Linked DNA regions of Homo sapiens: region 2 is linked to region 1. The links come from fine-mapping of genetic effects on gene expression. A gene starts in region 1. The other region holds a variant in brackets. All regions are shown on one strand. Distances are from middle to middle.

Evidence for each region. PIP is the estimated chance that this variant, and not a neighbour inherited with it, causes the effect. A credible set is the group of variants that fine-mapping cannot tell apart.
Region 2: its variant is the best candidate, but not a certain one, in a credible set for the expression of DMXL1 in aorta (GTEx, PIP 0.83).

The regions. Positions count from the first base shown.
Region 1 is chr5:119,068,540-119,073,921 of GRCh38, reverse strand. DMXL1 (Dmx like 1) reads right to left here and starts at 2,835. Exons shown (of 44, transcript NM_001290321.3): 1 at 2,266-2,835. The coding sequence starts at 2,352. It overlaps DMXL1-DT (DMXL1 divergent transcript), which reads left to right and starts at 3,032. Exons shown (of 3, transcript NR_134250.1): 1 at 3,032-3,116. LOC124901209 (small nucleolar RNA U13) reads left to right here and starts at 4,522; the gene lies at 4,522-4,625. RefSeq lists silencers at 2,399-2,678, 2,989-3,068.
Region 2 is chr5:119,245,208-119,250,589 of GRCh38, reverse strand. DMXL1 (Dmx like 1) reads right to left here. Exons shown (of 44, transcript NM_001290321.3): 44 at 1,463-3,595. The coding sequence ends at 3,371. Among named protein-coding and RNA genes, the nearest start is that of MIR5706, 93 kb to the right of the region's middle. The variant G/C (reference allele first, on the strand shown) is at 2,310.

The DNA of each region.
Region 1 (5,382 bases):
ACACAAAACAACTCAAGAAGTAAACAATAGATTCTGCCTTTTAACATGAGAGAAGAAAAAAGGGCGATTTCAAGAGAGAAAAATTTAAGGTGTATATAAGTGTCCAGGATAATGAGCGTAAGCAACTTAAAGAGTCAAGGATGAACAGGCTGCAAAGGAAAACCATGACTGTTAAATCCTTAAAATTCCATCAAAACTAAAGAGAGCTGAACTCTCTTTATACTTAAAAATTTATTTTTAGTTTATTTACTGAATGCTTCCAGAGACCTGGAAGAAATCTGCAGTAGGCTTGGTGGGAGATTAAATCCTACTCAATGGAAATGAACTTTAAAATTCAGCAGAACTGAGCAACAAGCTACATGATGGTACAGGATGACCATCTATCTAATCCTCCTCGGCACATTAACTGATCTCTCCTTAAAAACAATACACAGACATTCACCAAGGTTTTATAGAGGAATGCATCCAGGTATATAAATAGGCCATCATACTGCATATGCTTTGAAGTTCACACCACTGCTTACATAGATTGTGAATGCCTTCTTAGAAAAAATTCTTAGGGCTGGGCATGGTGGCTCACGCCTCTAATCCTAGCATTTTGGGAGGCTGAAGTGGGAGGATCACTTGAGCCCAGGAAGTCAAGACCAGCCTGGGCAACATAAGGAGACCCCTCTCTACAAAAAATAGAAAACTTAGCCAGCCGTGGTGATTAGAATCTGTAGTCCTAGCTCCTCAGGAGCCTAAGGTGGAAGGACGGCTTGTGCCGGGGAGGTCGAGGCTGCAGTGAGCTGTGATCCCGCCACTGCACTCCAGCCTAGGTGACAGAGGGAGACCTCATTTCAAAAGTTTTTAAAAAGCAAAAGTTCTTAGAATTTACACTGGAGAAAGCACTCATATAAATTTAGGAAATGACAGAGAATGCAACAATATTATCCTATAATTTCCCACTAGGAAAACCTTCTAAGGATGATGTTTACTTTCCTCTCAAGCAGCAAGAGCAGAGAGCAATGCCCAGGTGTAAGGAAACTATAGTTGCTCACTGGGACCCTCAGAGCTCACTCTTTTCCCAAGTATTCAGGCTGGGCAAACATTTAGAATTGGAATCCCGATAATTAAGATGTGTATGAGTCAATCTAAAGGGGAGGTACAGTCTCTATTTGAAAACAAAATGCTTCTTGGCACAATTCTAAAAGTACAATTCAGGCATTAAATGCCTCCACCATTTTAAATGCTGAGTATTATTTATTCTGACCAACAAAGACCACAGAAAAATTAAAAGCAGAGAAAAAGATTAGAAATTTAACACTCCTAAACCTGGGGCATTGGTTACGTTGTTTACTTTGTGTCACTTATACAAAATTAAGTTTTACTTTTATTTTTTTTAAAGAAAAAAGCCTACAGCACTTAGTATTCCCAGGCAGTGACAAGTTTTACTTTTAATCACAACTAAAGAGGTATCTACACAAATTGTAGCAAAAATCATTAGCATTATAAATTTATGTAGATAAAAGTATCATGTGCAATTACTGACTTATATTTTGAAATTGTTATTAAAAAAAAACCTATAGTTAAGGTAGAAAAATGCCACTATACTGACAAGTAGCCCGAAATTTGGTGCCCTCTTCTTGTCAATATGTGACCAATGAAAAGCAAGTTAAGCAACCTTAACCTGGGATTACCAGGTTATTGTAAAATATCCAAGAAATATTTTTAAAAATGAAAAGGCTTTTTTTTCTTTCCGAAGTTATTTCTCAGGGAATTAGAAAAGAAAATAAATGAAAAACACTGTTCTCAAGGCTAGTTGTTGATGGCAAACAATTGGTAATTGTTTTGAGACACCCACTTTTTAACTACAAAGATACTTGACCTTAACTTAGAATACAAAATGAAACCAATCTCCACTATTCCTAAATTTGACAATTTGAACCTATAGAATGGTATAAAAAAGCCCCCAACTCGTTACTCAACAAAGATTTTTGAACAAACGACTTTGGCAAAGCACCCTGGCCCAAGGCAGACAGACCAAAAACTTTAAAAATCCTACAAAATATTCTAACTTGAGTTCAGGCTCCATACAGTACCTCACTGACCGACATGGTTTTGCTTCCTTAGTTCTCAAGGGCCAGGTCTGCTGGGTTCTGGGTGGTAAGGACCCCCCTGGGGAGACAAGACCTCGCGCCTCTGCCCGTCGTTCTGGGCCAAGCTCGGCCCAGAATGACGGGCAAAGGCCGGGCCACGGGCGACGCGAGGGCCTCCCTCACTCACCGTGAAGCGCTGGTCGCCAATGCTGCCCACGGAGAAGCAGTGGTCGCCAGGGTTCACAGCCCCGGTCAGCACCTGGTGCAGGTTCATGTCGGCGCCCTAGTCCTGCAACGGACACCGCATCCAGCTCATGCCACGGGTCAGCGGCTGCTTCCCTCCCTCCTTCCCTCAGGGGCGGCGGCCGCTCTTCGGTGGCGACGGCAGAAGCAGCGACAGGCGCCTGGAGCCGGAGCCGCTCAGCTGGGGCCCGCGACTCATCCCGAGCCCCGGAGGGCGAGGCCCGGAGGGGGCGGGTCGGCGAGAGGGCGGAGCGCCGCGCTCCTTCGCGCACCTGTCACTCCCCGCGCTAGCCCAGGTGAAGCTCAGGGTCCCCTCACCGGCCACGACCCGGGGCCGACTCACCGGCCAGGAAGGCCGCGCTGTCCACACACTTCCTCTGGACCTCGGGCAGCCGCTCCTGACCCAGCCCGAGTGGCGCAAGCAGTACGCGCTCGCACTCCCCGCCTGACCTGTCCCTTCCCGGCTCCGGTGCCCGCCACCCCCACAGTCCTCCGCCACTCACTACGCGCCTCTGGATCCCTGCGGCCGAAATATCGCGAGACTTCGCTCGGGGCAGCTGCTACTGTGGTAAAGAATTCACTTTTTTACCACAGCGTGCGTATCAGCAAGTGAACATAAAAACGCCTCTTCTAGTCAGAAACTGGCCAATCCCGACCCCCGGTCCACCTAGGGCTCCGCCCACCACCGAGAATAAGCCAATCTCTTTGAGGCTTCTACAGGAGAACGCCGTGCGTTTGAGCTTGAACCTGATAAGCCTGGCAGAAGCCTGATGAACCCAGAATGAGTGAGATGTGGTAAGTTGTGCTTTAGGTTAGGGCGTCATCTAACTGTTGGGCCAGAAAATTTAAAGGGGAGAAGTGCATCCTAAAGGGAGTTGCAGTTTCCTCGGTTCTGGTAGGACTACAAGTCCCAATATGCACCGCTCCCCCGGGCGACCTGAGTGTCTCTTGAGTAAATGTGACCCTTGAAACGTCTACGTTAGCAGCTTAATGGTTTCTCCAGCCTTGCGCGTGTTTCCAAGTCCCTAAACGGGATGGTTTTTGAAAGGCTCGAACACTTGACAAGTAGGAAAGTGGTATTTTCTTAGCCTAAGTTATCTTAACACGTGATTTGAAATAGTGCTGGTAATAACAACACACCAGCCCTGCATTGAGCGTTTGTTTTGGAAAAGAACCTAGGAATTCCAGAATGATCAGAGTCACAGCTACAAACTGAGATTCAACTCTCATTGTATTTTGACACAAGTTTTGTATTATAATTGACAAACATCTGTTTATATGTCTCCCCCTGTATACCGTAAGCCTCTTTGGAATACAGAGGAACAGGACACAAGTCTGTCCTTAATGTCTAGCACCGCACCAGTCCCACCCATTCAGGGTGTTCTGTAAATGTTGCATGAATGTGTATAGAAACTCTCCAAATAGGCCAGGCACGGTGACTCACGCCTATTATTCCAGAACTTTGGGAGGCCGAGGAGGGTGAATCACGAGGTCAGGAGTTCGAGACCAGCCTGGCCAACATAGTGAAACCCCCTTCTCTACTAAAAATACAAAAATTAGCCGGGCGTGGTGGCTCCCACCTGTAATCCCAGCTACTCGGGAGGTTGAGGCAGGAGAATCACTTGAACCCGGGAGGCAGAGGTTGTAGTGAGCCAAGACCCCCGTTGCACTCCAGCCTGGGTGACAGAGTGAGATCCCGTCTCAAAACAAACAACCCTCAAAACTCTCCAATAGGCCAGGCACGATGGCTCACGCCTGTAATCCCAGCACTTTGGTAAGTCGAGGTGGGGGCGGGGGGATCACCTGAGGTTGGGAGTTCGAGACCAGCCTGGCTAACATTGTGAAACCCAGTTTCTACTAAAAATTAAAAAATTAGCCTGGCATGGTGGCACGCGCCTGTAATCCCAGCTACTGGGAAGCTGAGGCGAGAGAATCGCTTGAACCTGGGAGACGGAGGTTGCAGTGAGCCAAGATCGTGTCATTGCACTCCAGCTTGGGCAACAAGAGAGAAAGTCAAAAAAAAAAAAAAAAAAGAGAGAAAAGAAAATAAAGAAACTCCCCCTTTTGTTGTAGTATGAAGACTTCAAACTATAATAATACTAGGGTGGGACGAGTACTAGTAAATTTATTTCCTTTTATTTTTACTACATTTTTTGCAATGTACATTTACTTTGTCTGACAATAAAAAGCTACTTACGAGATACTTTTTAGTTCATAAGTGGGATGATTGTGTGTTCACACTTGTGTGAGACGTCCCTCCCTCAAACCTTGTTGCGCCATCATCTGCACATTACCCATCTGATGTGGGGAAAAAAAAAAAACCCGAAACTTATTTAAAAAATGAATTTCATTATGTATTCCAGGCTTTTCATAAGATAAGGGACAAAACTTAATTTGTCTTTTTTTAAAATATACTTATTTTTTGAGGTCTAACATACCTACAGTTTGTCTTTTATTATTTCAAATTATACTTCAAGTGCTTTTTAATTTTATATTTTAGACCCAGAACCAGGATTGTTGTACTTGTGTGGCTCCCACATAAATTCTGTGGCTGGTTCATAATTTAACATGTTTACTCATTCTATTTTGCCCATTTGTTAGTTTTGAAGAGCATTCCACGTATTAGAATAAAACTGAGCAACAAGATGCGGGGCGCGGTGGCTCACGCCTGTAATCCCAGCACTTTGGGAGGCCAAGGCGGGCAGATCATGAGGTCAGGAGATCAAGACCGTCCTGGCTAACACAGTGAAACCCCGTCTCTACAGAAAATACAGAAAAAAAAATTAGCCAGGCGTGGTGGCGGGCACCTATAGTCCCAGCTATTTAGGAGGCTGAGGCAGGAGAATGGCGTGAACCCGGGAGGCGGAGCTTGCAGTGAGCAGAGCTTGCGCCACTGCACTCCAGCCTGGGCGACAGAGCAAGACTCCATCCCAAAAACAAAACAAAACAAAACAAAAAACAACAAACAAACAAAATTCCCTTTGCCTCCAAGATGCTGCCCCTCACAGATCATCTCCTAATGTCATAAAATTCCCCTACTAAGGTTCTGTCGAATCCTAAA
Region 2 (5,382 bases), 180 kb before region 1:
ATGTATGTACCATAATTTATTCAACCATTTACTTGCTAATTAACATTTAGATTTCCAGTTTTTTTTTTTTTTTTTTTTTCATTTTTATTTTTTGAGACAGACTTTTGCTCTGTCACCCAGGCTGGAGTGCAGTGGCATGATCTCGGCTCACTGCAACCTCCACCTCCTGGGTTCAAGTGGTTCTCCTGCCTCAGCCTCCTGAGTAGCTGGGACTACAGGCACACAACCCCATACTCCACTAATTTTTGTATTTTTAGTAGAGATGGGTTTCACCATGTTGGCCAGGCTGGCCACAAACTCCTGACCTCAAGTGACCTGTGCTTGCTTCAGCCTCCTAAAGTGCTGAGATTACAGGTGTGAGCCAACACATCTGGCCTCTAGAATATGTTTCAATAAACATCTGTGTCCTTACATTTTTATGCATGGAAGCTTTTATTTTTATAATTTCTCAGAAGGTTGTTCACTGAAAGTTATGTGTATTTGATTTTAATTCACACCCAGATAACTTTGCCAGCAATGTTTCTGCCAATTTCCTTGCATCTTCACCAAAATGGATATTGTCACTATTTAACCTTAAACCAATCTGATAAAAACTAGTATTACAGTAATACTTTTTAAAAAACAATCCATTAACCCTTATAATGAAGATGAACACACTTTATATTTGTTGACTTTTTCAATGTCCTGTTCTGTGAATTGCTTATTCACAGTGTGACCACTTCTCCAATAACTTAAACTTCTCTTTGTATACAGGGACACTGACATGTTTCCTATTACTATACAAATATTTCTTCTAGTCTACTTGTTGTTTTAACTTTGACTGTGGTCCCTGCCATATGACATTTAAATTTTTTATTAAGTAAAATATGTCTGTGTTTCCAATCTTGTTAAAAAGATCACTTCCACCCTAAGGTTGTATAGACTTTTCTTTGAATGTGTCTTTGTATTGTGTTTCCATTGTTGGGACCAATGTGAGAAATTTCTGCAATTCTTCTAAAAAATATTTTTTTTTTCAAAGAAGGGAGGGCAAGGGCAAAGAGCAAGAAAGGAGGATGGAGATGACTGGTCCATGGTTTTAGTTAAGAAAAATCCTAGATATCAGAAAATAAGATTTGTTAATGTTGTGAATCCTTATATGATCACAAAGCCACATTCTTAGGAAACACACAATTAAAAAATGTATTTTGATGTATCCACTCCATTAATGTGGATAATGAAATTTTACATATATGTATATCATTTTATATTTAAACATTTCAACAATTTTTATTCCCACCTTCCTTGAATGCTGCTTACCTATCAACTTAAAAAGACGGTAGAAAAGAACAGGGTATTCGGGAAAGTTATTCCATCCTCCTTACATTAACCAAATACAAATATGGAAATTCTTGATTTTAAAATGTCACATATTTTAAGTCAGCTAAATTGGCAACGATATTAAAACAATAGTATACCCCCTAAAAAAGTTTCTGCATGATTGTTTATTTAAAATATTATGACTCTGGATGTAAATACATATGGGCTTACATAATGTATGATTATCCATATAAATGCTCAATTAAAATATTTAGTTCATCCTTAAACACCTTTTGTTCTAATAAGCATAATAGTAAATATTTTATCTCATTGGAAGTGTTTAAAGCTGTTTGAATCTTGATTTGTGAAGAAATTACTGAAAAATAACTTAAGGTTAACTACATCAAACAATACTATTGTTTGCAATGCTGTCAGATTTCTCCATGGCAAAATAGTCGCATATGGTTATTGCACGATTTATAGGTACAGGTTATTATGTGCATATAAACTCTCTACATAATGACAGTGTTTGCACTGCAACTTGCTCAACACATTTAAAATTGTTGAAATACAATTTACAAAATCTTTAACAACATACTTTTAAGATAAAAGTATCCTGAGGATATTACAAAATTCATTTTACCAGCCCTTCATTTCTTTGCTTTGACTCTTTAATTTCCAAGATAATCGTTGCCCATATTTTATTACATAAAATGCTATTATTATATATTTCCTATTAAACAAAATATATTTAAGTTAAATAGTACATAATTGTCCCATAAACACTTAGTCCCATCTGCCTGTAGTCTCATTGGTTAAAATCAAGTATTTATCAAGTTTTCTATAATTCTGAATCAGAAAAGGTACAGCACAAAACAGACAGAAACAGGGTTAGCACATTTAAGTTAAAAGCATTGTGCATTTTAAATATTTTGGTCATATTTTATAATAAAATATTTTGGCAAAAATAAAATATAAGGTTTAGTTTATTTTCTATTAATGGTAGATCTGGA[G/C]AGTATTTTACATTTCTAAATAGTATCTACTTAATTTGACTGCTTTCACATTTGTTTCTGAAAACACTGCTATTCGCTTTTCAGAATTTTGAGATTAAAAGCACCTAAAAATAAGATAAAATAAAATTTAAGTAAAATATTTGTTTGATGCTCGAAAGTTGACAAATTCACAAACTTACTTTAAGTGTCTTACATGATATATGCCACCACAGAAACTTTATTGCCTGCTAAGACTTATTTGACTAAATCTAATCTTTAAAATAATAATCCTGATAGTCTCCTTGAAACTTATTTGAAAATTAGGATGGGAATTCAAAAATTTTTTAAAAATGAAAAGCACAGTTGCAAAAAAAAAGTTATTCTGGTGGCAATAGTTGTTATGGCACAAAAACACATGAAAAACCAGTTTTCGCTAATATATACAACTAAGTTCAAATAAGATGTGTAAGATACACACACACACACACACACACACGTATACATACATACAACTTGGGTTCCGGAGGGTAAACTACTGAAAACCTTACATATTGAGCCATCTAGCTCATTTATCACTGACGTCTCAATGACAATTTTAATGAAGATGTTCATTATTTTTTTCATTCTTACTCAAATACCTATCATTAATTAAGAGAAGAGTTTGAGATGTATAAGGCTAATAAAGGAAGTGAGAGTGTGGTGAATTAAGTGATGAGTATTATGTACAATTGCCTTTACAAAAAACGTATTTTTACTGTGGAAGAAATTCATGCAGAGATGCCTGTGGAAAAGTATCAATAAGAAAACAAAACACCTTTAACACTATGACATACTGATTATAATATACTATGATATGTATTATTACAGCATTACTTACACATTCTACTTTAGGCAATGTAATCTACTTCTGAATGACCTTGTTAATTTTTAAGGCATCAGTGCATCAAGGGCAAAGCTCCATAAAATAAATATAAAAACAAGAAAGCATTAGCTAATTTGTGGCATAGAGAATGATCACTGTATATTATATCTGTTGGCCACTTCCATATAGGTAATAAATTGTACATCTTATTGTAAAAATGTTATAGCATAAATTTCACATCATTTTTCAACACTTCATTTAAAGGGCTAAACTGATCTGGCAGTATTCTCATTTTCATTGTTCCATCAGCTCCACAGGAGAAAATGTGATTTGCAGGCCCTGTCTCAATTTGCATCACTCCAGTTCCAATATTTCTAAAAATGGACTGCCGAGCATGTTCACTGACAAAAGTATGGAGAAGACCAAAGGTAGAGAGACTCCAAATCTGAAAGATATTAAGAACAAACGGAAAATTAGGGTTGATGATGACCTTAAGAAATCAAATGAGGCCAGGTGCGGTGGCTCATGCCTGTAATCCCAGCACTTTGGGAGGTCAAGGCAGGCAGACCACCTAAGGTAAGGAGTTCAAGACCAGCCTGACCAACAAGGAGAAACCCCATCTCTACTAAAAATACAAAACTAGCCCGGCGAGGTGGCACATGCCTGTAATCCCAGCTACTCAGGAGGCTGGGGCAGGAGAACTGCTTCGACCCGGGAGGTGGAGTTTGTAGTGACCCAAGATCACACCATTGCGCTCCAGCCTGGGCAACAAGAGTGAAACTCCATCTCAAAAAAAAAAAAAAAAAAAAGGAAAAGAAAAGAAACCAAATAAAAATTTTAGGCCTGCATTCCTGTGCAGTAAGGAATTTCCAAAACAAAAATAGAGAAAAATCTGTGTAGGCCTAGGATCATAACACCTTGATTCTGTATAGAGTGTTGTAATCTACCAATTGCTTTAACACAAAATACTTAAAAATCCATCTAGTAAGAGAGTAAGAGAAACAATGTAGGTAACAAGGAGGTTAAGTGTACAATGCTACAGAAACTTACAATACTGTAGGGATTAAAATCAACGTTTCCTATCTCTCAGCAGAGCTTTTGCCGTATAGGTGTACAGTAAGGTAATCTCTTCTTTACATTATTGAATGCTCACCAGGGATCAGAACAGCTAGAAAGAGGGAAGTACTTGACACCTAGAGGCCCTCTGACCAGGCAAAGCTATATTTTAACTATAAGACAAAGTCAATTATTACAATTTCAGGATACTTAATTTACTAAGATTTTGTATTTCCAGCCCTTATCAAAATAAATGTGCCTGTAAAGCAAATTATACGCATCTTTACTTATGGGAAGAACGTAAATGCTTTCAGGACATGTATTTTAGGTTTAGCGAAACCTACTTATTTCCTGGTTTTATTGGAGATCATTTTTCTAAACGTTTCTTTACTCTAAGAAATTCATTAATTCATACTACCCTGCATATGAATTTGTTAAATTAGGGCTTCTGAATACATTGTATATTTTCAACTCTTTTTTTTTTTTAACCTTGATTAAACAATAAACCACAGGATCAAAGTACAAACTAAAGAACCAATCTAGGCCAGGTGCGGTGGCTCACAACTGTAATCCCAGCACTTTGGGAGGCAGAGGCAGGCAGGCGGATCACAAGGTCAGGAGATCGAGACCATCCTGGCCAACATGGCGAAACCCCATCTCTACTAAAACACAAAAAATTAGCAGGGTGTAGTGGCGCACGCCTGTAGTCCCAGCTACTCTGGAAGCTGAAGCAGGGAAATCGCTTGAACCCGGGAGGTGGAGGTTGCAGTGAGCCGAGATCGTGCCACTGTGCTCCAGCCTGGCGACAGAGTAAGACTCCGTCTCAAAAAAAAAAAAAAAAAGAACCGACTTAACTATGGCATATTCTAAACTAGAGAGTCAGTCCAAATAAGAAAGTAGTTTCAAACTGAAGGAAAATAATTCTGTTGGTATATATATATTTGATTTTAAGAAAAAGGCTTTTAAAAATTCCATAATTCTAGTCTTTTCCTGGTTGAGAATTATGAAAACAATTTGCTGGTTTTAAAAAACCCATCTGATTCTACTAAATAAGTGTAAGTGCTTAAATTAATAAATTCGATGAAACTAAACCCCCCTAGTCTAGGGTTGCTGACCATTAAAATAACATAGGGATTAGTCTAAACTGATTTACCAATTACCAAACAGGGCCAAAAG